Homo sapiens: one gene and its partners. The protein of the gene in region 3 interacts with the protein of the main gene of each other region in a pairwise test. Each region holds a gene or a part of one and is shown on either strand. Other genes may lie near its edges.

Region 1 (7,025 bases), on a different chromosome or scaffold from region 3:
TGAGGGGAACCGTGTGGGGGAGGAGCTGGGACCCGGGAAATGGCAGGTGTCCTCTGAGGGGAACCGTGTGGGGGAGGAGCTGGGACCCGGGAAATGGCAGGTGTCCTCTGAGGAGAGCTGAGCAGGAGAGGAGCTGGGGCCTGGGAATGGCAGGTGTCTGCTGAGGGGAACTGTGTTGAGGAGGAGCTGGGACCCGGGAATGGCAGGTGTCCGCTGAGGGGAACCGTGTGGGGGAGGAGCTGGGACCCGGGAAATGGCAGGTGTCCTCTGAGGGGAACCGTGTCGGGGAGGAGCTGGGACCCGGGAAATGGCAGGTGTCCTCTGAGGGGAACCGGGCGGGAGAGGAGCTGGGGCCTGGAAGGCCAAGGCAAGGGCTGTCTCCAGTCCACGCTGCACCCCAAGAAGGGAAGTGTGGAGAGGTATTGACTGGTGGCTCAGTAAAATGGCCTGGAAGTGGCCTTGGTGATTCCAGAATCTGCCAGCTCACTCCCTTTGGCACCGTGTCCTGCTGTGTCCAGGGCGGGCAGGTCCATGCTGCTCTGGGTCCAGGGAAGGTCTGGGAAGAGTGGCCAGGGACTTGGAGGGCCTCTCAGGTGAATGATGGGAGGTGGCTGGATGCAGGGATGGCCAGTGCGGGTCTGCATGGGGCGGGTATCAGATCGTCTGGTGTGTGTGTCCCTGATGAGGTGGGAGGGGGGTGCCAGGTGGGTGTTCGGCAGCTGTGGGCACTGTGAGGTGGTGGTGGGGGGAGGCTGCTGGGACATGATGACTATGGGAGGGTGTGAGGTGGGCAGGCGCCTGCGGGGGCAGGTCCCAGGTGGAGAAGGTGGCGTGGTGTCTTGCTGTCTCAGGCCCTTCCTCTGTGCATCCACGTAAGTGTGGGTAAGCCAAGAATAGCCTGGGTTCAAATCCACCTTTGCCGTTAATTGGCTGTGTGCTGGTAGACAAGTTACTTAGCTTCTCTGTGCCCCCACTCCCTCATCTGCACGCGAGAATTGTAACAGAGCCTTCCTCAGAGCGATGATGGTGTTTAGGATGACATGCGCTGCACAGCAAGTCCTGGCCGTGGCGGCTGCCATTGCAGCCCGTGGGGTCACCCTGGAGGCCGTGATTGCTGATGTTGTGCTGTTCTTGTGCCTTGCTCTCTTCTTCTCGGTGCCCCCAGACTCTCTCTGCCTTCGGAGGACGGCGTCTCTCTCGCCTCACACTGTGTGCACGGGCAGTGCGGACGGGTGCTGGCTTGGTCTTTCCAGCCCTGCCTCGCTCGGGGCCTGCTGCATCGTAGCTCAGGCCTAGGACCCATCTCTGTACCTGCAGGTCTTGGGTGCTGCCCGGCATGAGTGGAGGAGTTTATCAGAACAGGACCTTTTATAGGAGGTTTTAACTTTAGAAGGGAATAGAAAAGTGTCATGGCAGCAATATTTATTTCTAGATCACCCTGAGTTTTTTTTCTTTGTTTTGTTTTATTGTCCTCTTTACACCATGAGTTTTTAATGATGAATGAGTGAAGGAGTGACAGTGCGGGTTGAGCATCCCTTATCCAGATGCTCCAGAATCGGAAACCCTCTGACACCGATGTGGCACCTCAGGCATAGCTGAGCTAGTGACACCTTTGCTTTCTCATGGGTCAGTGTACACAAACCTTGTTTCATGCACAAAATTATCAAAAGTACCGCACAAAATTACCCTCAGGCTGTGTGTATAAGGTGTATATGAAACATAAATGAATTTCCTGTTCAGACCTGGGTCCTATCCAAACATATCTCATTACGTATATACAGATGTTCCGAATCAGAAAAAATCCACAGCCCTTCTGGTCCCAAAAATCTCTTCTAAGGGACACTCAGCCTGTGTGACGTGGTCGGTGACTCCTGATGGGAGGTGGCAGTGCTGTGCGGCGAGTGGGGACCTTCGTGTCACATCCCATCTGTGCCTCAGGGCTTGGATGAATTACTTCTGGCTGGACCTTGTTCCCTTTTCCACACAGTGAAGAGGCTGGGTTAAATGATCTCCAGTCAAGGTGATTCAGAGTTAGCTGGAAGGTGTGTAGGGGGAAGTTGGAGCTTCCTGGCCTTGCCCCAGACTTACTAAGTCAGAGTCCCTGGGAGGTGCAGGGGCTTGGGAGCAGGCGTTCTTACTGGTAGCCCCGATGGTGTAATGGAAGTTCAGCTGGAATCCAGTACCCCATGGTCTTCTAAATTTCACTGTCTGTTCTGCTAGCTTTACTATTAATTGATACAGTTTTAAAAAAAATTAAACTATAAGCTGAACTTATGTGATTATTTTGGGAGGCCAAGGTGGGAGGATTGCTTGAGGTCAGAAGTTTGAGACTAGTCTGGGCAACATAGTGAGACCTCGTCTACAGAAAAATTAAAACATTAGCCAAGGTTCACTGGGTGTCTTCTCCTTGGCCCCTTTGCCCACGTGGTGAACACTGTGGACCTGTGAGGGTGTGAGGGTTGCGTTCCTGCGTTCTGGACTCTTTACCCACTACTGAGAAGCAGCCGTTTGAAATATGAGTTGGCAAGGAAGATCAGCATGTAGGCTTAGACCAAGACGGTATGTGCAGCCTCCTGAGCTAACTGGGCCTGTGCTTGAGCCCAGTGATGAGCAGCCTCAGCAAGAGGAACCACCACCTGAAAGTCGGGGTCTTACCTGGCCAGGAGAGAGAGGAAGATCACGGTGCTGCTGAGATTCTTGTGCTTGACCAGGAAGCTGATCTCCGGGAGCTGTCTCAAAGACTGGGATGAATGTGGAGATGGTCCTGATGTCCGGGGAATATTCTGCCGAAATCAGAGCAATTTAAATTGCCAGAAGGAGGTGAAGGGCAACCACAGGTTCCAAGGAAGACAAGCTGAAACAATGCAAACTGGTTTTATATTAGATACGTGACTTAAAATATCTCAATACAGTTTTCTCCAAAAAAAAAAAAATAGTTAGCCGAGTATGGGGGTGTGCTTGGTATGGCTTGAGCCCAGGAGTGAGTTTGAGGCTGCACCGAGCAATGACTGTGCCACTGCACTCCAGTCTGGGCAATGGAGTGAGACCCTGTCTCTAAAAAATAAAAACAAAGAAACGTGATTATAGATAATAAGATATTACTTACATGAGTTACAAACCATTTCTTTTTAATAAGCAGAGGCCCATGACAGTAAGAGTCTAGTAGAAAAATTGGGTGGACTGCATAGAAGACATTGTCCATCATTATGTCACACAGTGTGAGGCGGATGGTGCGAATAAACTGGGAAGTCATGTCTTTCATTGAGGCAGCATCTATTCCTGTTTGGAAGAGAAAGCCGAGAGGTGTTCTGTTCCCCGAGGAAGCCATCAAGGCTTCATGACCTGCTGTCCTGGGGCTGTTCACAGTGATAGCTGGCACTTGCCGGGAACAGCAGCACCTTTGTTGTGTGACAGATGCTTTTCTGAGCGTGCTTTAGTGAGACCGTTTCACGCATGTCCTGCTTTCCCTCTCCCCTCACCCGTGACAAAGTGATTCCCCCTTGTATTTGTTTCCTGGGGTTGCTGAAAGAAATTACTGCAAACTGGGGGGCTTAAGACAACACACATTCATTCTCCTGCGTTTTCGGGGGCCTCGTGTCTGCAGTCAGTGTGACCTGGCTGATGGCAGGTGTGGCAGAGCTGGTTCCTCTGGTGACTTTAAGTCTGCTTCCTTCACCTTTCCGGCTTCTGGAGGTGACCGCCTGCCCGTCTGCCTGGGCTCGAGACCCATCCTTGAATCCCTGCAGTCTCCGCATCCTTCCTCATGTGGCCGTCCCCTCTGGCTCTGACCCCAGGCTCACACAGGCGCACCCCACACTCTCCCCATCTCTAGAGCCTTCACGTGGTCACGTGGATGGGAGGAGCCATCCAAAAGCTTGGGAGTGAGGATGTGGGTGTATCAGGGGCCATCAGCCAGCCTGTCACACCTCTTAAGAAGATCGATCCCCAGACGTGTTTCTTGGCCAACTTTTACATTTATTTATTTATTTTTTAATGATGATTTTTAATAATTTTTAATTATTAAAAAATTATAAAATAATTTTAATTATTTTATTTTTTAAATTCATTTTTTAATGATTTTAAATAGTTAAATGCCCAGTCCTAATATTTAAATTATTAATACAGTACTACTTAGATATTGAGTAATGTAATTTATATTCATTTTTTACTCTTTTCCATCAAAACATAATTTTACTAAGTACGCATGTTCTGTGTCCGTGTTTTGTCATCACTGAAGCCACTTTTGGAGTCACCTAGTAATAGCCTTTCCACTCTATCTAGTTCTGTAGCTTTTATGTGTGTAAATTACTTCAAATCTGTTTATGATCCTATTGCTGGAAACTTTATCCCAAGACACAAAAATCTTTTCTATTAGAAGTTATTAACTTTAAAACAATTATTTATTTTATTTTATTTTATTTTTTGAGACAGAGTCTCGCTTTGTCACCCAGGCTGGAGTGCAGTGGCACGATCTCGGCTCACTGCAAGCTCCACCTCCCGAGTTCATGCCATTCTCCTGCCTCAGCCTCCCGAGTAGCTGGGACTACGGGCGTCCGCCACCATGCCCAGCTAATTTTTTTTGTATTTTTGGTAGAGACAAGGTTTCACCGTGTTAGCCAGGATGGTCTTGATCTCCTGACCTCGTGGTCCACCTGCCTCGGCCTCCCAAAGCGCTGGGATTATAGGCGTGAGCCACCGCACCTGGCCTAAAACAATTATTTCTTTAAAAAAACATACCCTCTATTCTATTTTGTGTCTTCACAACACAATCACTTACTGTATTGCTTTTTAAAGTGATCTTTAAAGAGTCTTGCAGAAGAGACTACACAGCAGGCCCGAGACCATCCTGAGAGGCCTGTGTGCAAGGCTGGCCCCCCGCTGGTGTCAGGACGGTGCCCACCACCCTCAATGAAGAGGGGCTCCCTGTGCTTAGCTGCTTGTGTGGGGAACAAGGTTTGTGCTGAGAACCTTCCTTTCTTCTGGGAGTCCAGAGTCTGGGCACGAAGCAGGCAGAGGGTGCCCATGTGCCCAGCCCCCAGTAAAAACCCTGGCACCGAGTCTCTAGTGGGCTTCCCTGGTGACGACACTGCACATGCGTTGTCACGGCTCACTGTGTAGGGAGTTAAGTGCGTCCTGCGTGACCCCGCTGGGAGAGGATTCTGGAAGCTCAAGCCTGGTTTCTTTGGGACATCGCCCCATGGACCTCTGCCCTTGCTGATTTTGTGTGGAATCCTTTCGCTGTAATGAATCTCAGCTGTGAGAGCACCTTTGTGCCAAGTCCTGGGAATCCTAGGGAATCACTGGCCTGGGGGTGATCCGCGGACCACTGACAAGTTTGTTCTCAATGACAACCAATACTTTTATACCCCCTGGAAGAATTGAGTTAATATGACATTTCTGCTTTTTTAGGTGGTGGTTTTTATCTAGCCTGTTGAGTGGCCTCTGCAGTATTGATCGAGGTTGTTTCAGGCTAATACGTTTTCCCCCACACAGTATATTCAAAATAAATTAATGTGGGAGGGTCATGGAATATTAGGTGACCCCTCTCCTGAGGGAAAACTCTATGTCAGGGGATTTATGATCAACTAAGGGGTTAGACTCAGTGTTCTGCAGGTGCCTTTGAACCTGAAGCCTGTAGCAGGCCTTGCTTCTCACGCTTGGACTCTGCCATCCTGTGAAACGTGGGTTTGGGTGTGTTTCTTCTGTGTGGAGCCCGAGAGTCTGCCTTTCAGACGGGCTGCCAGTCCACGGACCACACTTTGAGTAGCAAGGGGCTCTTTCCATCCAAACAGGGTGTGGAAGCAGTGCTGGGAAGCAGTCCTGCATCCTCACACCCGTGGCAGGTGGGCCTGGCAGGAACTTGTGTGGTAACAAGGTAGCAGTTGTGGGAGACATTTTCTACTCCGAAAGGAAGTTTCTTAGCCTGACTTGAAGATTTATTATCTATAGACACTTAGAGGCTCTTTCTGTGGTGGTTTTTATTATGAATTATCTTTTTGTGTTTAGCTAATACCAGTGAGTGGTGGAGAAAGATGGGCTCTTTAATAATGAGCTGTTCGTTTTTCTTTCTTAGGGCACTGTTTGAAGAAGCAAACATGGTAGCATCAAGCATTCCTTGAAATATGGCTCCAAGGGAACAATGAGACGTGCTCTTGGTCTTGGAAGCTCATCAGAATGTTTAGAGCTGGGGAGGCCTCCAAACGCCCATTGCCTGGGCCGTCGCCCCCAAGGGTGCGGAGTGTGGAGGTTGCCCGGGGGAGGGCCGGCTACGGATTCACGCTTTCGGGACAGGCACCCTGTGTGCTCAGCTGCGTCATGAGAGGGAGCCCTGCGGATTTCGTGGGCCTCCGAGCTGGAGACCAGATACTTGCTGTCAATGAAATCAACGTGAAAAAAGCATCTCATGAAGATGTAGTGAAATTAATTGGGAAGTGCTCTGGTGTCCTTCACATGGTGATTGCTGAAGGCGTCGGCCGCTTCGAATCCTGTTCCAGTGATGAAGAAGGGGGACTCTATGAAGGAAAAGGCTGGCTGAAGCCCAAGCTGGATTCTAAAGCACTAGGTATAAACAGAGCAGAGCGAGTCGTGGAGGAAATGCAGTCTGGTGGAATTTTCAATATGATTTTTGAAAACCCGAGCCTTTGTGCGAGCAATTCAGAGCCCTTGAAATTGAAACAAAGATCCCTTTCAGAGTCGGCCGCAACTCGATTTGATGTTGGACATGAAAGTATAAATAATCCAAATCCCAACATGCTTTCTAAGGAGGAAATATCAAAAGTTATTCATGATGATTCGGTTTTCAGCATTGGACTAGAAAGTCATGACGATTTTGCATTGGATGCAAGTATTTTAAACGTGGCGATGATCGTGGGCTACTTAGGCTCCATTGAGCTTCCTTCCACGAGCTCCAACCTGGAGTCCGACAGCTTGCAAGCCATCCGCGGCTGCATGCGGCGCCTGCGGGCAGAGCAGAAAATCCACTCGCTGGTGACCATGAAGATCATGCACGACTGTGTGCAGCTGAG
Region 2 (7,025 bases), on a different chromosome or scaffold from region 3:
AGTAGCTGGTATTACAGGCACACACCACCACAGCTGGCTGATTTTTGTAGTTTTTGTAGAGACAGGGTCTCACTGTGTTGCCCAGGCTGGTCTCAAACTCCTGAGCTCAAGCAGTCCACCCATCTCAGCCTCCCAAAGTGCTGGGATTACAGGCATGAGCCACTGCACCCAGCCAAAAAATATTTCTTAAATTTTTTTTTTTTTTTTACTTCTCCCAATGAGTGAAGGCACTTTCCATATTTATGGCTATATGGCTATAGGTTAAATCCATATGAAACATGCTCCCTTGCAGAAGTCACTTTCTGTTGTCTTCGTCAGCAAACTCGGTGTTAAATGTCATACTCAGGTGTGGTGTGCTGGTTTTCCATCCCGGGATTCCATTAGAAGCTCTGAAGGTGATGTCTGAACTTGATATTTGCTGGAATTTTTTGTGTGAAATCAAACGTGAAGTTGAAATAACGTGATTTAGTTGGAAAAAAGTCAGAGTAATCTTAAATCTTAATGTGTGGTTGGAAGAATATCTTAATACCTGTTTGTGTGTTTGCTGTCAGTTCTAGAGTAGTTGCCATTTAAGTATAGCTGTGAGAGGCAAGGCCCTGTTCCCACTGATACTTCAAAGTACCTTCAAAAGAGTGTCCTCAAAACTCTCAATGTTCAGTAGAGTTCAGAGAGTTTTCTTTAGAAATCTCAAATGGAAACAATTCTAGACAAAACCAGGGAATCCTACTTTAAAATTATAAGCATAGGCTGGGCGCGTGGCTCAAGCCTGTAATCCCAGCACTTTGGGAGGCCAAGACGGGCGGATCACGAGGTCAGGAGATGGAGACCATCCTGACTAACACGGTGAAACCCCGTCTGTACTAAAAATACAAAAAATTAGCCGGGCGTGGTGGCGGGCGCCTGTAGGAGGCTGAGGCAGGAGAATGGTGTGAACCCAGGAGGCGGAGCTTGCAGTGAGCCGAGATTGCGCCACTGCACTCCAGCCTGGGTGACAGAGCAAGACTCTGTCTCAAAAAAAAAAAAATTATAAGCATAATAGAGGTATATAATTGGATTAATATAGAAATGTCAACAATCAGCTGAAGAATCTCCCTCTCCAGGATTTAAACTTTAAAATATCCCCTTAAATTTGTATTCTAGAGCAGGGGTCCTCAACCCCCTGGCCATGGACCAGTACTGGTCTGTGGCTTGTTAGGAATTGGGCCGCACAGCAGGAGGTGAGTGGTGGGCAAGCAAGCGGTTAGCGTCGGGCAAGCAAGCGGTTAGCATCGGGCAAGCAAGCATCACCGCCTGAGCTCTGCCTGTCAGATTGGTGGTGGCATTAGCTTCTCATAGGAGCATGAACCCTATTGGGAACTGCACATGCAAGGGATCTAGGTTAGGTCCTCTTTATGAGAATTTGACTAATGCCTGATGATCCCAGGTGGAACAGTTTCATTCCACTCCCACTAGTCTGTGGAAAAATTATCTTCCATGAAACCAGTCCGTGGTGCTAAAAGGTTGGAGACCCCATTGTTGCCGCCGTTGGAGAGAGTGAAGCAGGCAGCTGGAAAGGACCCCCCGTTCTCCTATGACAAGACACATGATCTTTAATGATTCTCCTTCTAGATTTCCTGTTTACAGAGCAGGGCCATCATCTGTCGTGCCTGCCTCACACTGAGAGGAGGGAGTACTTTATCACTCACTGGGCACACCAAAGCCAGACAGGTTTTCTGGTTTAGTGTTAGATGCATCATCTGGTTCCTAAAATCTCACTCCTCTGAGATTTCCAGGATGATTTTCCAAAATTTATTTGGAGAAAGGATTCCTTAACTATAAATCAGAGTTAAATTTACCTGATCCATTAATTAGGAAATTTAATTGACACATTTCAAACCTAATTTATTCCCAAGACAAATGGCTACAGTTCTAACTTTATCATTGTCTTTGAAAGAATTTCATTTTTGCAGTGTTTGTAACCTGTTTGAAGACCTCTGGTCCCAATTGTTTTAACCTTAAGGAGCCATCCTCCTTTTCAACTTTTAAACACTTTTGGAAAAACACAGTTAAGTAAAAAATGAAGTTGTTAATAAATAGTTTTTTTCTTGCAGTCCATATATGGAGGTCAGTGTTCTGAGATCTTCATCCTTCCAGAACAGCCATGAAACTAGAAGTACAAAAGTATCACCTACCAGTAAAAAGTTTACCCCAAGTCCCTGCATTTTCATTCCTTCTCTGGTACAGGGTAGATCATTATTTTCACAATTGTGTGTTGTTGGGGTTTCCTTAGCTGCAGGTTACAGCCACAGAGTGAGGCCCAACAGTTGAGTTTGAGCTGCAGATGGAAAGGAAGGGCTAGAAGAGTAGAGGAAGGTCCCCTGGTCACTGGCAAGATTGTCCTAGGGTCAAAGTCACCCACAAAGAAGGAGACAGCAGACCCTCCAATCAGGACCACTGACTCAGCCATCTGCAGAAATTGACATGTAAAAGGCTCAACTGTGCCAATTTGAGCGACTCAAATACCTAAAGCAGTGAGGTGGTGTGTGTTTACACATTTATTGCTTTCTTATCAAACTTCATGATGGGCAGTTAATTTTGTCTTAATAAAAAATAAAGATGGCTCTGAAAAGGTCAGTTCCTTCATTTTCCATCTACTACATTATGTTAAAGTTTGATATTTATAATGACTCCAGTTAAATGTGTGCCTCAGGCACATAGAATTAAGCCTCGGTTGTCCAAAAACAACTTATTCAGATGTCTGCATTCCATAGGGTGTTCTGTAAGCCAAGAGGCTGAGAAGCAAGAATTTCAGCCCATGCTGCCTGCCTCTTGTGTGACCTTCAACGAGTCATTTAACCTCAGCCTCTACTTACCTGCAGAATGGAGGCACCAGTACTTCTTAGTTAACAATGGGATAGAGGGAGGCCACTATGTAGGGCTTTGCAGCTGGAGTCCAGTATTCAAATCCCATTTTACTCTTCTGGAAGTTCTATGCTTCAACGCTAGTAATTTAACCTTTCTGTTTCTCAATTTCTTTTTTTTTTTTTGAGATGGAGTCTCACACTGTCACCCTGGCTGGAGTGCAATGGCGCAATCTCAGCTCACTGCAACCTCCACCTCCTAGGTTCATGCAATTCTCCTGCCTCAGCCTCCCAAGTAGCTGGGATTACAGGCACACACCAGTACACCCGGCTAATTTTTTTTTTTTTTTTTTTTTTTTTTTTTTTAGTAGAGATAGGGTTTCACTATGTTGGCCAGACTGGTCTCAAACTCCTGACGTCGTGATCCATCCGCCTCGGCCTCCCAAAGTGCTGGGATTACAGGCATGAGCCACTGCACCTGGCCATCAGTTTCTTTAATGTTAGAATGTAGGTAACAGGTAATAATGGCTTAAGCACTTACTGTAGGCCAGGATGACCTGTGTGGTATGTGCGTTGCTAGGTGCTGAGAATGTATATAAATTGCCTGTCATAAGTAGGTATTTAGTTAATATATATTGTTATTTCTTGGATTTTGATAAGTTTGAAGTTTTGCTTACTTTAAAAAAAGACATAAGGATTGGGGGGTGGCTCACACCTGTAATTCCAGCACCTTAGGAGGCTAAGGCAGGAGGATAACTTAAGTCCAGGAGTTTGAGACCAGCCTGGGTTGGCATAACGTAGCAAGACTCCATCTTTAATTAAAAAAAAAAATTTTTTTTTTTTTTTTTTTGAGAGAGTCTCGCTCTGTCACCCAGGCTGGAGCGCAGTGGCACAATCTCGGCTCATTGCAAGCTCTGCCATCTGGGTTCACGCCATTCTCCTGCCTCAGCCTCCCGAGTAGCCGGGACTACAGGCACCTGCCACCACGCCCAGCTGATTTTTTTTTTTTTTTTTTTTTTGATTCGGAGTCTCGCTTTGTTGCCCAGGCTGGAGTGCAGTGGTGCGATCTCGGCTTATTGCAAGCTCCGCCTCCCGGGTTCACGCCATTCTCCTGCCTCAGCCTCCTGAGTAGCTGGGGCTACAGGCCCCCACCACCATGCCTGGATAATTTTTTTTTTTTTTTTGTATTTTTAGTAGAGACGGGGTTTCACCGTGTTAGCCAGGATGGTCTCGATCTCCTGACCTTGTGATCCGCCCGCCTCAGCCTCCCAAAGTGCTGCGATTATAGGTGTGAGCCACCGCGCCCAGCCAAAAAAAATTTTTTTTAATTAGCTGGGCATGGTGGCATGAGCTGTAACCTGTAGTCCAGCCTAAGGTGGAGGTGCAGCCGAAAAGCAGGTCAGTTGTTTACCGCATGCAGAGTCCAGTTAACAAGAGTGAGGCGCATACAAAGCCAGTGAATTTACTCTGAAGTCAGCTTGGGGAAGGGGCACGATGTCCTGCTGTACCGCTTCACTTTTAGAGCAGAAAGCAGGCACTTTTATAAGGTATAGGAGGAAATGAGCAAGGGCAGGGGTCCCCCTGCTATCTGGGTACTTTATCTAACTGGCAATTGAGTTGGCATCTTCCTGGGCAGAAAGAAGTAAAAGTGGCCATGGGGACATGATTTGGTCTGCAAATCCACTGTCAAGAGATCCGTCTTGGAGCACGTAGTTAGCTGAACTTGCCCCATAGAAGATGTCTGGTGAGGGGGAGGGGAAAGGTTATATTTGCATTTCTAAAGGGCTAAGTAGGAAGCAGGGTACCGGGGAAAGGGGGAGAGGAGAAAATAATTAAACTATCTCTTAGAAAAAATGGGGCTGGGCATGGTAGCTCATGCCTGTGAATCCCAGCACTTTGGGAGGCTGAGGCCAGCGGATCACTTGAGGTCAGGAGTTCAAGACCCACCTGGCCAGCATGGTGAAACCCCATCTCTACTAAAAATACAAAACTTAGCCAGACTTGATGGCGGGCGCCTGTAATCCCAGCTACTCATAAGGCTGAAGCAGGAGAATCTCTGCTGGGAGGTGGAGGTTGCCGTGAGCAGAGATCGCACCACTGTGCTCCAGCCTGGGCAACAGAGCGAGACTCTGTCTCCAAAAAAAAAAAAAAAAAAAAAATGGGGGTACTTGGTTACAGGAGGATTGCTTGAACCTAGAAGTTTGGGGCTGCAGTGAGCTGCAGTCACACCACCACACTCTAGGCTGGGCGACAGAGCGAGACTTTGTCTATAAAAAGCGAGACTCCGTCTATAAAAATAATAATAAATAAAAGGCTGGGCGTGGTGGCTCATGCCTGTAATCCCAGCACTTTGGGAGGCTGAGGCGGGTGAATCACGAGGTCAGGAGTTCGAGATCAGCCTGGCCAACATGGTGAAACCCTGTCTCTACTAAAAATACAAAAACTAGCTGGGTGTGGTGGTGGGCGTCTGTAATCCCAGCTACTCGGGAGGCTGAGGCAAGAGAATTGGTTGAACCCGGGAGATGGAGTTTGCAGTGAAGCAAGATCGCACCACCACTGCACTCCAGCCTGAGCGACAGAGCAAGAATCCATCTAAACGATAATATAACAATAAATAAAAATGTGAAAGACATACATGTACATAAATAAATTTAAAAATGTGAAAGACATACTTGGTATGCTTCATCCTGGCTAAGGATGAACTTTGCTATCCACTTGTAATATTACTAAAAATCATAGTGCTAGAATGTATGCTAAGCATTAGTTTATGAAATTCCTGAGGTTGGGTGTGGTGGCTCACGCCTTACAGTCCCAACGCTTTGGGAGGCGGAGGCGGGCAGATCACCTGAGGTCAGGAGTTTGAGACCAGCCTTATTAACATGGCGAAACCCTGTCTGTACTAAAAATACGAAAAAAAAAAATTAGCCGGGTGTGGTGATGCTCGCCTGTAATCCCAGCTACTTGGGAGGTTGAGACAGGAGAATTGCTCAAACCCAGGAGGCGGAGGTTGCAGTGAGCCAAGATTGTGCCACTGGACTCCAGCCTGGGCAACAGAGCAAGACTCTGTCAAAGAAAAAAAAAGAGGCTGGGCGCAGTGGCTCATGCCTGTAATCCCAGCACTTTGGGAGGCTGAGGCGGGCAGATCACCTGAAGTCGGGAGTTTGAGACCAGCGTGACCAACATGGAGAAACCCCATCTCTACTAAAAATACAAAAATTAGCCAGGCGTGGTGGCAAATGCCTGTAATCTCAGCTACATGGGAGGCTGAGGCAGGAGATTCACTTGAACCCGGGAGGCAGAGGCTGCAGTGAGCCAAGATCGTGCCATTGCACTCCATCTTGGGCAACAAGAGCAAAACTCCATCTCAAAAAAAAAAAAAAAAAATTCCTGAAGCATTTTTTACTTTCTGTTCAAAACACTGAGTTTGTTCTTTTTAAAAGACAGTGATCTCTCTGAACTTGTGCTTCCTGGAAAGTTGACATGGGGATAGGGAGCTTTCCTGGAAGTTGGGGCTAAGTATGGGAGTAGGGTGCAGGCTCAAGGATAACATTTTTTGGGTGTTTGGGGTAAAGATAGGATAGTTGTGAGCCAAGCAGAGAGGAGGCAGAGCTGGGGGCAGGGGTGGGCCCAAGAGGGTGCCCGGGAAGTGGAGTTTAGAGAAGCTGCCTGTGTGCAGGGAGGGGGCTGTTGAGGATGCCCCACCACTTCCAATGTCATCTCATAATGTGATTGGCAAACGTGAGGTTACATTTCACAATGTGTTTCTTTAATGATCTATAAGCCAGTTATTTTCTGCTTTGGGCATTTCAAACAATTGCTTCTTGAAATGTTAATGCTCTAATTTTGCATTATCTACCAAAACACCTCTTTTATTTTCTTTCTTAAAGAGAATTCAATGGAAAACTTTTGTATTTGCTGTGAATTTAGTAATAAAACAATGGAAAACGGGACATGAGAGCAACATGCTTTGCTTGGCTGTAGAATTTTATTGTCTGCTTTTTATTAACCTTTCATTTTAATTTTACTTACTTACACCTTTGTTTAAGAAAGGATGTAAGACAACAGATGAAAAAATAAAATAGCATATATTTTTTAAAGGAGTCACACATTTCTTAAAAAGAAGACAATTGAGAACATTGCTGCATTATTACCACTGTTACAGCATATGCCTGGTACAGATTGCAG
Region 3 (7,482 bases):
TCAAACTCCTGACCTCAAGTGATTCGCCCATCTCGGCCTCCCAAAGTGCTGGGATTACAAGCGTGAGCCACCACGCCTGGCCTGCAAAAGCTTTTAACTTATCTCAGACCTAAGTCTGTTTCCAATTCATCTTCCAAATAGTCATCAATTATTCTTGTAGAACAAATTTCTGATCTTGTCTCTCTCCTGCTTAATAACATCCAATAGTTTAGCCATTGTCCAAGTTTTATTTTACTTTGAGACAAAAGTCTCACTCTGTTGCCCAGACTGGAGTGCAGTGGTGCAATCATGCTTACTGTAGCTTTGACCTCCCGGGCTCAAGCGATCCTCAAACCTCAGCCTCCAGAGGAGCTGGGACCACAAATGTGTGCCACCATGCTTGGCTTATTTACTATTTATTTTATTTTATTTTATTTTTTGTAGAGTCAGGGTCTCCCTATATTGTCCTGGCTGGTTTTGAACCCCTGGGCTCAAGCTATCCTCCCACCTCAGCCTCTTAAAGTGCTGGGATTACAGGCATGAGCCACCAAAACCAGCTAAAGTTGTAATTCCTTAGCAATGTGTTGTACACTTCCTCTATGTCCCTTCATCCCCAATCAAATTCACCTTTCTGCTCACCTACTCTCTTAGTTGTCTGCTTTCTGCCATATGACAACCAGCTCTTCCAACACCTTAGCCCAGATTGATTTTACATGTGCTATCTAGTGCGTGTTACGTGTTTGTTTCAGCTAGAGAAGTTTCTGGAGTTAACCAAGTTTGCATGTGTGTCTGGGGATGCTTAGGAGAATGTTGTAAATGACCAGTATACCAAAGTGACACTGTGATTTGCTTCTTCTCCATGCTGGCAGCAGCAGTCCTCAAATCGTGCAGTGGCCAGCATTTTGTTCAGGAGAAAATTGCTGTAGTTCCAAGTATTGTTAAACTGAAACGATGTAGGCTGGATTCACATGCACTTTTGGAAATATCATATATTTTGAAGGTATTATAAGTTTGATTTTTTTGGTGAAATATCTGCACTCTCTCCTTGGATTAAATCATTTTTGCACTTTTTATTCCTTTCCCCCACAATTATTATTATTATTATTATTTTTTGAGACGGAGTCTCGCTCTGTCACCCAGGCTGGAGTGCAGTGACGCGATCTCGGCTCACTGCAAGCTCCACCTCCCGGGTTCACGCCATTCTCCTGCCTCAGCCTCCCGAATAGCTGGGACTACAGGTGCGTGCCACCACGCCCGGCTAATTTTTTGTATTTTTTAGTAGAGACGGGGTTTCACCATGTTAGCCAGGATGGTCTCCATCTCCTGACCTCGTGAACCACCCACCTCGGCCTCCCAGAGTGCTGGGATTACAGGTGTGCGCCACCGCGCCCGGCCCCCCACAATTATTTTTGTTTGTTTGCTTTTCATTCCTGAAATCCTGCACTGAAGCTCTCTGGTACTTCTATTTACTTTTTCTCTACCTTTAATTTTCTTCATTTTATTTTTCATTCCATTCCTTTTTCTGTTTTCAAAAACTTTTTTTTCTCATTTAGCTCATGCTTTGCCATGAGCTCATGCTTTGCCATGTTGGGGATTTTATTTTATTATTTCTATCTTAATTCAAAGAATATAAACCATACAAAAGCCTGCTGCCTTTTCAAAAGGAGTTCTGAATCTGAAGCCCAAAATAATACCCAGTATAGTTGTACAATTTGGCTGTATTTTAGTTGCTTTTCCAGGGTAAAGGAAATTTTTGATCTACTCTTTCCACCACAGCACTCATTTGTCATGAATGTCCTGTTCTCAAAGTTATTGAGTCAGTTGTGATGACAGCTGGTTTTCTAAGCAGCCAGGAAAGAAGAGGAATCTTTATATATTTTTTCCCCTTTTTTCTCATCAGGAGCCAAGAAAGAACATTTATATACTTTAAAACCAGTCCTCAAGAGAGAACTATCTGCACTCCTCTCACCCCCCCAAAAAGGTTATACATCTTAATACTAAATTCTGGATATTGTATTGTTTCCTCAGATCCAGCACCAGCTAAAGGAAGGGAGCTTGTATACATTTTTTTTTGTTTCTAATAAAAACATACAGGTTCCTTACCAGTAGCACATAGATAGGGTAGACAGTTGTATGAATATTATGGGTACAAATGAAAGTAATAGTAAGAATTTATGAGCTGACCAGATTCTAGAAAGCCACATGTCCAACTCCATCAGCTTCCAGAAGCAATTCTTCCTGCCCCCAGCTCCACATAAAGGACTGAGAAGTCTAGGAAGAAGCATAACAATGTCTATTGGTAGTCAGTGTCGTTTAATGGTTAATTGCTGCCATTATTCAGTTAGTTTATTAGATTCAAGAAGAATAATCAGCCAACAAATATTTATTAACACAGAGGAAATGCTGACCATAAGATGTTAGGTGCTGGGGAATGCAGTGGGAAAACAAAAGAGTTTAAAGCCTGGAGGGGAAGATAAACGGTCAGCAAGTTATCACAGTTTATCAAATAAATGAATTCAAGGGTGCAAAATACCATGAGCAAGAAATACAAGGTGTCAACAGTAGAAACTGAATACATACGTGCCTGTGGGCATGTATACCCACCCACCCACCCACATATATACACAAGGAACAGAGCTTGAAATGAATCTGTCTTTCCTCTACCTCAAGTGGCAGCTTTGTTAATTCCTGCAAAGCAATATAAATAGCAGCTTCTATATGAAATTATATGCATCCCTTTTCTGTTGCTGTTTATTGATGCCTGAGGAGGGCAAACATGGGTTCTACTGATGTCAGCAGGCAGAGTTGCTGCAGTAAAATTTATTCAAAATGAGTGTTGTGGGTTCTGATTTGAATAGATAAACTGGAGATGCATTTATGAATTTGCATGTCTGTTTACACAAGCAATAGACCATGGTGGCTGAAAGTCAGCCACTGGAGGCTGACTCTGGCTTCTGTTCTACAGTGGGTCCACTACTTACTAGCTCTATAATCTTGGACATACATCTGTAAAATGAAGATAAATAACCACATTAACCACCTCATAGTTTGCTGTGAGGATTAAATGAGTTAACAAATGCTAAGCCCTTGGAACAGTGCCTAGCACAGAGTAATTGCTCTACAAATGTCACCTATTGCTTTTGCTCTCCAATCCCCCCTTCTCCCCTTTTTTTAGCCAACTAACTGAGCAGGATAATATTGGATCTCGTGGATACAGGGTAATTTTCTTCAGCAGAATACCAGAGAAAGATTTATTATCGCCAAGGGGGCCCAGGAATTTAATAACACATTTGTTGTTTTTAGAGCTGAGTTTTTGTTGGAGTGTTAACTGAGAAAGAAAGTTTTCAGACGTGAATGGAATGTGACATTTACTCTGGTATTATTAGCATATAGAGTAGTAAAAACAGTAGTTGATAGTCTTCGTGCATGTTAGCTTCCCTTAGACTTATTTTCAAAATATTCATTTGGTTTATCACATTAATATATTGTGTCCCATTTAACATAGTTGAGACAAATTAAGGAAAGATGATAGGGTATGAAGAGCTGATAGAAGCTTTTAATATGTGGAAAACCTCAGAATATAAACATCTACAGTGTTATTAATAGGCATACCGTCAACAACAGTTTTTCAGACTTTGTGGTTCACTCTGGAGAAAAACAAGAGCATGACATCTTGAATTTCTTCACTGGGTAATTAAAAAACTCAGTTATAATGTAACACCAGCTGCACATATCATGTTAGTGGAGTTCAGCATCAATTAAAATTATAAACGAAACCTGTCATATGTTCCCTTTCAAAGCTGTTCAAGACAACTGTCCAAATCAACAAAACAGTATGAATATTTACTACCATAAATCTTTTAACTCTTTGGTTTTAACTCATTTCAAATTTTTAGTTCTACTCTATTCAAATAAATTATTATATAATAGCTAATACATACCAAGAGCTTACTGCATAATCTAGCTGCTGTTCCAGACATTAGTAACCAATGAGAAAACTGTAGAGAGTAGCTGCAGCTTTTAGTAATACAATGTCAAGGAGAAGAAAGTGGGGGCAGTACCGAAACTTACGTACAGTACCGTCGTTAGTACAGCATTGACACTGACGGCCTCCTTCAGGAAATACAAACCTTGTGAGGTTTTAATTACTAATGCTACAGAGTGGCGTTTTTCCGAGGACTGTGTTCCACTTGGTCTGTCTCTGATGGCTATTAACTAATAACCGTTCTCATTCTGCTGCTGTGGGAAATAAGCAACAACGGAAAAGTAATCGATAATCTTAGAGCATAACTCAAAGGCCAGAGCAGCCAAGGAGGTGGAAGAGTCCCGAGCCCTGCCTTCTCCACAGCACCCCCAAAACCCCACGGCGGGGCAGAGCGCCTGGTAGGGTACGAGCGGCCGCCAGCGTTTCCCGCGCGGCGCCGGGGGCGGCCCCGGGACTGGGGGTGGTGCCCTGGGAGCTGTGTGGCCGCGTGCGCGCTCCGCCGGGGTCCTGGAGGCCTCTGGGCGCGTGCGCGGGCGGTCGCTACCTGCGGCCGAGCCAGGGAGCGAGAGGGCGCAGAGGGCAGCGGGCTTGGGCAGCATGAGGCCCGGAGGGGAGCGGCCCGTGGAAGGGGGCGCGTGCAATGGCCGCTCCGAGCTGGAGCTACTGAAGCTGCGCTCGGCGGAGTGCATCGACGAGGCGGCCGAGCGGCTGGGGGCCCTGAGCCGCGCGATCTGGAGCCAGCCCGAGCTGGCCTACGAGGAGCACCATGCCCACCGCGTGCTGACGCACTTCTTCGAGCGGGAGCCGCCCGCGGCCTCCTGGGCAGTGCAGCCGCACTACCAGCTGCCCACGGCCTTCCGCGCCGAGTGGGAGCCGCCGGAGGCCCGGGCACCGAGCGCCACGCCACGCCCGCTGCACCTGGGCTTCCTCTGCGAGTACGACGCGCTGCCCGGCATCGGCCACGCCTGCGGCCACAACCTCATCGCTGAGGTCGGGGCGGCGGCCGCGCTGGGCGTGAGGGGGGCCTTAGAGGGCCTCCCCAGGCCGCCTCCGCCCGTGAAGGTGAGGTGGGGCCCGGGTGCGGGACCCTATCCGACTGCCCGGGTCGGGGGCGACCCGGGAAGGGCGGGACTCTCGTGCGTCCCGCGCGCCTCGGTGCCCTCCCGCCCGGGGCAGGTGTGTGTGGGACCGCGCTAAACCTGCGGTCCTCGCCTCGGCGCAGGAGCAGAGCTGAACCCCCAGTCAAAGTCAGTTCGCGTTGCCGACCTGGCGACATCTTGCAGATTATTGTTTCCTCCTCTCTAGTTATAAACAGCTCTGCTGAGTTGTTCCCTTAGGAAAGAACTTACACCCAAGCCTGGTGTTTGTTACGGGTTATTTTTGGTAACTGAGAGAGGCAACAGCAATTTGCTGACAAGGTTGTGCCATCAATCTCAGGAGGAAATAACTTCTTGTAGGTAATCCTACGGCCCCTTTTTATTCGTCTCCAAATAAATCTTTTGTTTGTGGCAGTCCTAGAAAATGTGATTCAAGTCATTGGTATTTGGATAGGAATTTTCAGTCGCTAGAACCACCAGACCCCTAGAAGTATACAAATAAAGGGGAAGTGAATGAGCATTATACATAGATGAGTTCATCCTTAAGTCTTAATTTTTTTGTTTTATGATTTTAAGAAATACCTCGACTCTTTAAACAGGGAAATGTCGTTTATGTTTGTCGTAGGGCAAGTTTAATCCTGTTTTACTCTGCTTTTCCAGATGGTATATTCTACACTATGAGCTAAGATTCAATCGTCATTCAGTTAAGGGGAAAACAAATGTTTTATTTTCATACTCTTTAGTTCATTTCCCCCAGTGTCAGTAACCTTCCTCTTTTATCCTAACACTACATCTTTTGTGGCTTTTTCACTTTAGCTGCCTTCTTTTTTCTGTCTCTGGAGGCTCGTTTTTGCATTTGTTAGGTTTTTGTTTGGGTTGGGGGAAGCATGCTTTGCCATGTCACAAACACTGGAGAGATTTCGCTTCAACCACGTTTTTAAAGGTTCTGAGTAGTCAGCGAGAGACATATCGTATTTAATGAGTTAAGGGTCAAGAATGAAGAGCGGTGGGCAGATCAGTTGAGGTCTGGAGTTCGAGACCCGCCTGGCCAACATGGTGAAACCTCTGTCTCTACTAAAATATATTAAAAAAAAAAAAATTAGCTGGGCGTGGTGGCTCACGCCTGTAATCCCAGCTACTCGGGAGGCTGAGGCAGGAGAATCGCTTGAACCCAGGAGGCAGAGGTTGCAGTGAGCCGACATCGCGCCACTGCACTCCATCCTGGGCAACAGAGCGAGGCCTCCTCTTAAAAAAAAAAAGAGCGGCGGCTTCATGTCAGAGTTTGAGCACTGTAGAACCGCCAAAAAAAAGCTAAACTTTGAGAAATGTACACTCTTTTTTTTTTTTTTTTTTTTTTGAGACAGTCTCATTCTGTCGCCCAGGCCGAGTGCAGTGGTCCTATCTCGGCTCACTACAACCTCCGCCTCCCGGGTTCAGGCGATCCTCGTGCTTCAGCCTCCTGAGCTGGGATTACAGGTGTGTGCCACCACGCCCAGCTAATTTTTGCATTTTTTAGTAGAGACAGGATTTCGCCATGTTGGCCTGGCTGGTATCGAACTCCGGATCTCGGGTGATTCGCCCACCTCGGCCTCCCACAGTGCTAGGATTACAGGCATGAGTCACCGCTCCCGGCCCACTCTTCTAACTTCAAATGGTTGTTCTCAATTTTAGCAAGGTTAAGTTATTAATTATCTGAAAATGGAATTTAAGTTGATTTCCTTTGCAAGCCAAGACTTTTCCAGCTTGTTTCATTGTGTTCTTATACATGATCTTGAAAATATATTAGTTGTTTATTTTGATTTTTAAAATTGTTTGAAGCAGTTAAGCTTAAATATCAAAGTAAAATGTTTATTCTGTAAAGTTCTCTTTTGTTTAATTAGGTGTTTGGTGACCAATAAATCTGCCTGGTTGAACTGGTGGAATCGAATTAGTAAGTTTGTGTAATAGTTGGCTGTTTCTAACTGTGGCATTAAGACTTGTTTAATGTTCTTCATAAAGGATTAATGAGTTCAGACTTTTAAAATAGGTAGCCCAGTAAGGAATCAGAGTTTAGGCCAGAAGATCAGGACATCTAATCCTAATTCTGCCTGAAGACTTGCTCTGTGACCTGGGGCAAGACACTTCACTCAATTCCTCAAAAACACCCCCTGTAAAATGATGATAGAGATCACCCACCTACCTCACAGGGTTGTTGTGAGGATAAGTAGTAAGTTAACAGAAAGTTTCTGACTCGTAAAGTACTTAAGAATAATTATATACATACATACACTGAAAGGCTTAGTCGAGAGGAACCTTTTTGAAACAAATCCTAACAAATTTTGAGGGACTAAACTTGTAGTATTTTTTTTTATCTTTGCCATTAGTTGACTTGTAAAATTGGGAAAAGCTTTTTATAGTGTCTTTAGTACATACTTTGCACCA
Region 4 (7,025 bases), on a different chromosome or scaffold from region 3:
ATTTATAAAACCATCAGACCTTGTGAGACTTATTCACTACCAGAAGAAAAGCATGGGAAAGAACCGTGCCCATTATTCAATTACCTCCCCCCAGGTCCCTCCCATGACACATGAGAATTATGGGAGCTACAATTCAAGATGAGATTTAGGTGGGGACACAGCCAAACCATATTAATGACACTTCTGTGATCCTGTGGATTTGGGGAGTGATGGCGATGATTTCAAGAAGGAAACCCCCTCTCCTGCACATGGCTACATATTCTCCAGGGAACAACTATTGCAGTCTGAGAAGCACACAACAGGGATATCAGCAAAAGCTAGGAATGCCTTTCTAGCCCAGATATCTAGCACTGGGGAAAGCACAAGATATTGCTGGTGGTGAGGAGAACAATGAAGACAACTTGTTTTTTGGGTGGCCCACGGGTCATTAAAAGTATCACAGGACAGGATTTGTGTATGGACAACAATTCCCATATTTACAAATGAACAATGCTCTAAGAGTTGGGTTAATGTTGCTGTGTTTCTTCAATCAGTGCTTAGGCTCTATTGTGTCAGAGATTTAGCTGGTTATGAGAAAACAGTGACAATCCAAACCCAAACTTTTTCAAAGGGCTAACAGTTTTACGTTGACCCTGCATGCATATTATAAAAAATTAGCTCCATTTTTGAGCAATATCTCATAAAATGCACACTTATATTTCTTTCTATATTCATTCTCATTTCTAAAGGTATGTGTCTGGGTTATTTTTACCCTTGTAAGCCGTTTCAAATCTTTTCTGAAATAAACAAGATACACATAAAGGTGTAAAATGATGTCATGTTTATATTTCCATACTACCTCATAGAAACCTGAAGCATACGGCTACTAATAATACAATGATGTGCTTCATAATGACGTTTCAGTCAATGAAGTGGTGGTCCCATGAGATTACAATGGAGCTGAAAAACTTCCATTGCCTAGTGACCTCATAGCCATAGTATGTGGTAGCGCAGTGCATTACTCACATGTCTGGGGTGGTGGTGGTGTAAACAAACTTACTGTGCTGTCAGTTGTACACAATTCTAGCATATAAGTAATTACTGTATTATACTTTTTTTTCTTCAACTTTTATTCTAAGTCAGGGGTACATGTGCAGGATGTGCAGATTTGTTACACAAGTGAACGTGTGCCATGGTATCTTGCTGCACGGATCATCCCATCACCTAGGTATTAAGCCCAGCATCCATTAGCTATTCTTACTGATGCTCCCCCTCCCCCAAGCTCCACCAACAGGCCCCAGTGTGTGTTGCTTCCCCGACGCGTCCATTTGTTCTCATCATTCAGCTCCCGCTTATAAGTGAGAACATGCAGTATTTGCTTTTCCGTTTCTGTGTTAATTTGCTGAGGATAATGGCTTCCAACTCCATCCATGTCCCTGCAAAGGACATGATCTTGTTCCTTTTTATGGCTGCATAGTATTCCATTGTGTATATGTACCCCATTTTCTTTATCCACATTTTCAGTCTATCATTGATGGCATTTAGGTTGATTCCACGTCTTTGCTATTGTGAATAGTGCTGCAATGAACACAGGTATGCATGTATCTTTAGAATAGAATGATTTATATTCCTTGGGGTATATACACAGTAATGGGATTGGTGGGTTGATGGTATTTCTGGTTCTAGGTCTTTGAGGAATTGCCACGCTGTCTTCCACAATGGTTGAACTAATTTATACTCCCATCAACAGTGTAAAAGTGTTCCTTTTTCTCCACAACCTCGCCAGCATCTGTTGTTTTCTGACTTTTTATTAATAGCCATTCTGACTGGCATGAGATGGTGTCTTTTTGTGTTTTTGATGTGCATTTTTCTAATGATCAGTGATGTTGGGCTTTTTTTCCTATGTTTGTTGGCCACATGTATGTAATTACTATATTATACTTTTATCGTTATTTTAGAGTGTGCTCCCACTTACATAAAAGGTAACTGTGAAACTGCCTCAGGCAGGTCCTTCAGGAGGTATCCAGAAGAAAACATTGTTATTATAGGAGGTGACAGCTCCATGCATGTTACTGGCCCTGACAGCCTTCCAGTGGGACAAGATGTGGGAGTGAAAGAGGGTGATACTTATGATCCTAACCTTGTGTAGGCCTGGCTAATATCTGTGTTTGTGTTGTAATTTTTAACACAAAGTTTTTTTTTTAATAAAATAAATTTTAAAATAGAAAAAAGCATATCAAATAAGGACATAAAGAAAATATTTTTGTATAGCTGTGCAATTTGTGTTTTAAGCTGTCTTACTACAAAAGAGTCAAAAAGTTTAAAAAATCAAAATGTATATAAAGTTAAAAAGTTACAGGAAGCTAAAATTAATGTATTATTGAAGAAAGGAACATAGTTTTTATAAATTTAGTGTAGCCTAAGTGTACAATGTTTATAAAGCCTACAGAAGTGTATAGAAATGTCCTAGGCCTTCACATTCTGTCACCACTCACTCACTCACTCACCTACCCAGAGCAACTTCGAGTCCTGCAGGCTCCATTCATGGCAAGTACCCTATACATGCGTACCATTTTTTATATTTTATCCCATATTTTTACTGCACCTTTTCTATGTTTAGATACATAAATGCTTACCATTGTGTTACAGTTGCCTCCAGTATTTAGTGCAGTCACATGCAGTACAGGTTTGTACCCTGGGAGCAGTAGGCCATACTGTGTAGCCCTGTTGTGTAGTAGGCTGTACCATCCAGATTTGTGTAACTGCACTCTATGATGTTCGTGCAGTGATGAAATAGCCTAATGACACATTTCTCAGAACATAAGCCTATCATGAAGTGACGCACGACTGTGTTTTGACTATAAAGACAGTAACCATTTCTAACATTTTTTTCCGAAGAAAATAGTTTTTAAGCTCGGGCTTGGGCTGGAGAGCAAATGTCTTCCCTGAAGTCTCCTCTAGTGCATTGGGTCTCATAAGCCACAGATAATTTGTTGGCTATTTTTATTTGCTGATGACAAGTCACTTCTCTAGGCTCTTCAGCCCTCAAGTGTTGCAGATTTCACTTTCTGAGGTCATGGCTGCAAGACACATTTTCTTGACCAGCAGCTGTGGCCTGAGTTTTAGATTGACAGTGAAATGCATAGAAACACAGCAGGCTTCCCCCAACACCAAGATGTCTCAGCTTTAAGGAAGATACAGGACTGATGCCAATACTGCATGGCTGGTGACTCCTGGGCTCAGCCTCTGAATATCTCCCTGTCACTCCCCAGGAAGGGTGAGCAGGTGGTCACGGGAGGAGGCTGAGAGCATGGAGAGAAACTCAGCTAAGGGAGTCATTTGCTCTGGGGTCGCCTCAGCTTTTGTCTTTGCTCTCATCTCAGCCACTGCAGGGTATGTGGGCTGCGCCCGTGCCGGATCAGCTATGCGCATCAAAGCCCCTTACTCATGACTGCTCGGCAGTGGAGGCAGTGAAGCACAGGCACTCGGTCCATCCAGTCCTCAGTGTGTTCTTGTCCTATGTTCAGTATACCCCCATAATTCCTTGACTGAGTGCTGTGAGAGAAAATGCACCACACAAGAGTCAAGTCCTCCTGTGTCTCTGTGGGTAAACAAAAGTTCACAAACCAGCTCTTCAGCCGGAGCCATATCTTCCCCATGTTTGTATGCTAAGCACAGGGTCTGGCATATACTAGGTCCTTGGTCAAAATTTGCCCAGTGAATATACACTTTTGACCTCAATTTTTTTTTTTTTTTTTTGATGGTGGACGGGATCTCACCCAGGCTGTATGTAGTGCGGTGGCATGATCATGGCTCACTGAAGCTTTGAACTCCCAGGCTCAAGTGATCCTCTTACTTCAACCTCCCAAGTAGCTGGGACTACAGCTGTGCACTGCCATGTCTGGCTAATTTTTAAAATTTTTTTTCTAGAGACAGGGGTCTCACTATGTTGCCCAGGCCGGTCTCAAACTCCTGGGCTCAAAACGTACTCCATCCTCGGCCTCCCAAAGTGCTGGGATTACAGGGATGAGCCATCATGCTCGGTCTGACCTGTGAATTCTAATTATTTCATATGCAGGTTGTTTCATGTGCCTAGTGTTTATAAACGTTAAGTGATTGCCTAGCTAGTAATTTCTTTCTATTTTAAAAGTAATATCTATCAAAGGTGTTTGTGCTGTTAAAAGGCACGAGGATGGTAACATGAAGTCCCAAACTACTTCTTTCCATCTGTGTTTCAGATTATTTGAATATATTTTGCTGTATAAGGATGGAGTGATGTTTCAGATTGACCAAGCCACCAAGCAGTGCTCAAAGATGACCCTGACACAGCCCTGGGATCCTCTTGACATTCCTCAAAACTCCACCTTTGAAGACCAGTACTCCATCGGGGGGCCTCAGGAGCAGATCACCGTCCAGGAGTGGTCGGACAGAAAGTCAGCTAGATCCTGTAAGGGTTCAAAGAATCTAAGCATTGTATTCAGCATGCATGATGGGGAAAAAGGTTTAAGTCCTTTAAGGAAGGTAGTTTTTAGGGAAACATCCGCTTAATCAAAAATTTTTTAAAGCCTCCACTTAGGTCTGCAGGTTACTTTGCTCACTATGTGGCAACGGGATCTAAGCTTCATATTTGAAACACCTCAGCCTTCTAGTGCCACCTGCACCTCTCTGCCACTTTGGCTCCTGTGAACTTAGCCTTGATTTTGACATTTTATGGTCGTCCCGAGGTCTGTGACATGGAAGGCATCTGTCTAAGGCACACATTTGAATTGGGTGCCTCCTTTTCTTTCCCCCACTTCCTAAAGTTGCAGGGGTCAAATCTACTCCCATCATGCTGAGTGTGCAAACCAGCCTACTTTTATGTGAAGCCATTCTCTGCCCTGCTGCTGATATACGCCTATCCCAAGACAGTTTTTACCACACAGGCATTCATGCTGTGGAACACAGTATGGTGATTTCTCAAAAAATTAAAGATAAGACTGCCATATGACCCAGCAACTCCACTTCTGTATATATATATATGCCCCAAAGAATTGAACGCAGAGACTCAAACAGATATTTGTACACCCATGTCCACAGCAGCATTATTCACAATTGCCAAAAGGTGGAAACCCAAATGTTCATCAACAGATAAATGGATAAACAAAATCTGGTATAGTCATACAACAGAATATTATTCAGCCTTAAAAAGGAAGGAAACACCAGCACATGCTACAGCCTGAGTAAACCTTGAGGACATAATGTTAAGAGAAACAATGCAGGCAGAAAATGACAAATACAGTACAATCCCACTTACATGAGGTATGTAGAGTCGTCAAATTCATAGAGACAGAAAATCGAATGATGAGTTCCAGGAGCTGGGAGAGGAGGAATGGGAAGTTCGTGTTTAATGGAGACAGAGTTTCAGTTTGGGAAGATGAAAAAAGTTCTGGAGATGGATGGTGCTGATGGTCAACAAATGTGAATGTACTCAAGGCCACCAAACACTTAAAAATGGTAAAATGGTAAATTTTATGTTATGTACATTTTACCACCATAAGAAAAAATATGAACTTCTTGCCTGTCTTCTTTATTTAAAAGTCAACTTTTTTCCTCTTATAGATGAAACCTGGATTGGCATCTATACAGTCAAGGATTGCTATCCTGTCCAGGAAACCTTTACCATAAACTACAGTGTGATATTGTCTACGCGGTTTTTTGACATCCAGCTGGGTATTAAAGACCCCTCGGTGTTTACCCCTCCAAGCACGTGCCAGATGGCCCAACTGGAGAAGATGAGCGAAGACTGCTCCTGGTGAGCCTGTGCATAGGGAAGCGGCAGCATCGGATGTCAGCCCCCTGCGGCCCCAGCTGGAGATGGATATGAGACTAGTCAAGATGTGAATGCTAATTGGAGAGAAATATAATTTTAGGAAGATGCACATTGATGTGGGGTTTTGATGTGTCTGATTTTGACTACTCAAGCTCTGTTTACAGAAGAAAATTGAATGGCGAGGGTGTGGCCATATGAACTGACTAGATGGCTAATATGGACACTTTGGGTATTTCTAATGCCTGTTCAGGGCTGGTTTTCTGCATGCACGGGTATACACATAATGCAGTGCCATGCACATAGGGAAGGGTCAGTAAGAGAAGTTTGCCTTGGCAGCAAGTATTTATTGTTGACATTATTCAGAATTAGTGATAATAAAAAGCAGAGTGATTTTGGTCAATTTTATTATTAATTCTTAAATTCCCTGCAGAGAATGCCCCCTTTATTGCTGCACCAGGGTTGGCATTGCTCCCACTGAGCCCTACTCCACCCTGTCCCTGCACTCCCTTGGTTGCCAAAAAAATGATAACTTAAATCCCTTCCAGACTTAAGAATTTTATGGCATGGCCCAATTGATATAAACATTTAGAAGGAAATGAAAAGCTAAAATAGGAAGTAATTATTCCTCTAAAGAAACATTTTGAGCAAGGCAGTTTAGAGAATCCTAATGTCTACACTGGCATAGCACGAGCCATGTAAGCTTCTTTTTTTTCTATGCAAGAGTATTGATGTATGTGCTGAATCTTCACAGACTTGTCAATACACAGGCAGTATTCTAAAATAGCACTGAACAGGGAGTCAGGAGACTATTGTCTCCTAAACCCAGGACTAGAGTTCCCTCGTACTGTCACTCCTTTGGTCATTAAATGCACTGGGCTTGCCCGCACTTTGGCCTTCCTAGAACACTGCTTCATAACCTCTCTGTCTGACTTCTGCATCTCCTTCCAGGTCAGCTCATTCACAAGAGTTGCTCCCAAGCCTGGATGAGTTGCACCTTGCATCTTGAGCATGCATTTCTCACAATAATTATTAAGCTGTGTGATAATTTCTGCTTTCAGGACACTCATCCATTATCTTGGCTGTGAGCTCCTTGGGTACGGGTACCTTGTATGTTTACTTTTATATCCCTAGCACAAAGCAAGTGCCTGGCACATAGTCAGTGCCCTAAGTATTCGTAGAGTGAAGAATGCCAGCCTCTCTTGTCCCTGGTTTCCTTATGTGTTGAATGTGGTTGAGT

The links.
Region 1: the proteins of PM20D2 (region 3) and RGS12 interact in binary tests that used the Homo sapiens proteins (3 or more experiments, as listed by UniProt).
Region 2: the proteins of PM20D2 (region 3) and DNAJC11 interact in binary tests that used the Homo sapiens proteins (3 or more experiments, as listed by UniProt).
Region 4: the proteins of PM20D2 (region 3) and EPDR1 interact in binary tests that used the Homo sapiens proteins (3 or more experiments, as listed by UniProt).

The regions. Positions count from the first base shown.
Region 1 is NC_000004.12:3,309,997-3,317,021, forward strand, and holds part of RGS12 (regulator of G-protein signaling 12), read left to right. Parts: intron 1-4,814; exon of another isoform or gene 4,815-4,953; intron 4,954-6,073; 5' UTR 6,074-6,174; coding exon 6,175-7,025. UniProt on the Homo sapiens protein: Regulates G protein-coupled receptor signaling cascades. Inhibits signal transduction by increasing the GTPase activity of G protein alpha subunits, thereby driving them into their inactive GDP-bound form.
Region 2 is NC_000001.11:6,691,809-6,698,833, reverse strand, and holds part of DNAJC11 (dnaJ homolog subfamily C member 11), read left to right. Parts: intron 1-7,025.
Region 3 is NC_000006.12:89,141,584-89,149,065, forward strand, and holds the start of PM20D2 (xaa-Arg dipeptidase), read left to right. Parts: upstream 1-4,471; 5' UTR 4,472-4,561; coding exon 4,562-5,026; exon of another isoform or gene 5,027-5,283; intron 5,284-6,941; exon of another isoform or gene 6,942-7,482. UniProt on the Homo sapiens protein: Catalyzes the peptide bond hydrolysis in dipeptides having basic amino acids lysine, ornithine or arginine at C-terminus. Postulated to function in a metabolite repair mechanism by eliminating alternate dipeptide by-products formed during carnosine synthesis.
Region 4 is NC_000007.14:37,944,623-37,951,647, forward strand, and holds part of EPDR1 (mammalian ependymin-related protein 1 isoform 1 precursor), read left to right. Parts: intron 1-4,217; coding exon 4,218-4,426; intron 4,427-5,577; coding exon 5,578-5,774; 3' UTR 5,775-7,025. UniProt on the Homo sapiens protein: Binds anionic lipids and gangliosides at acidic pH.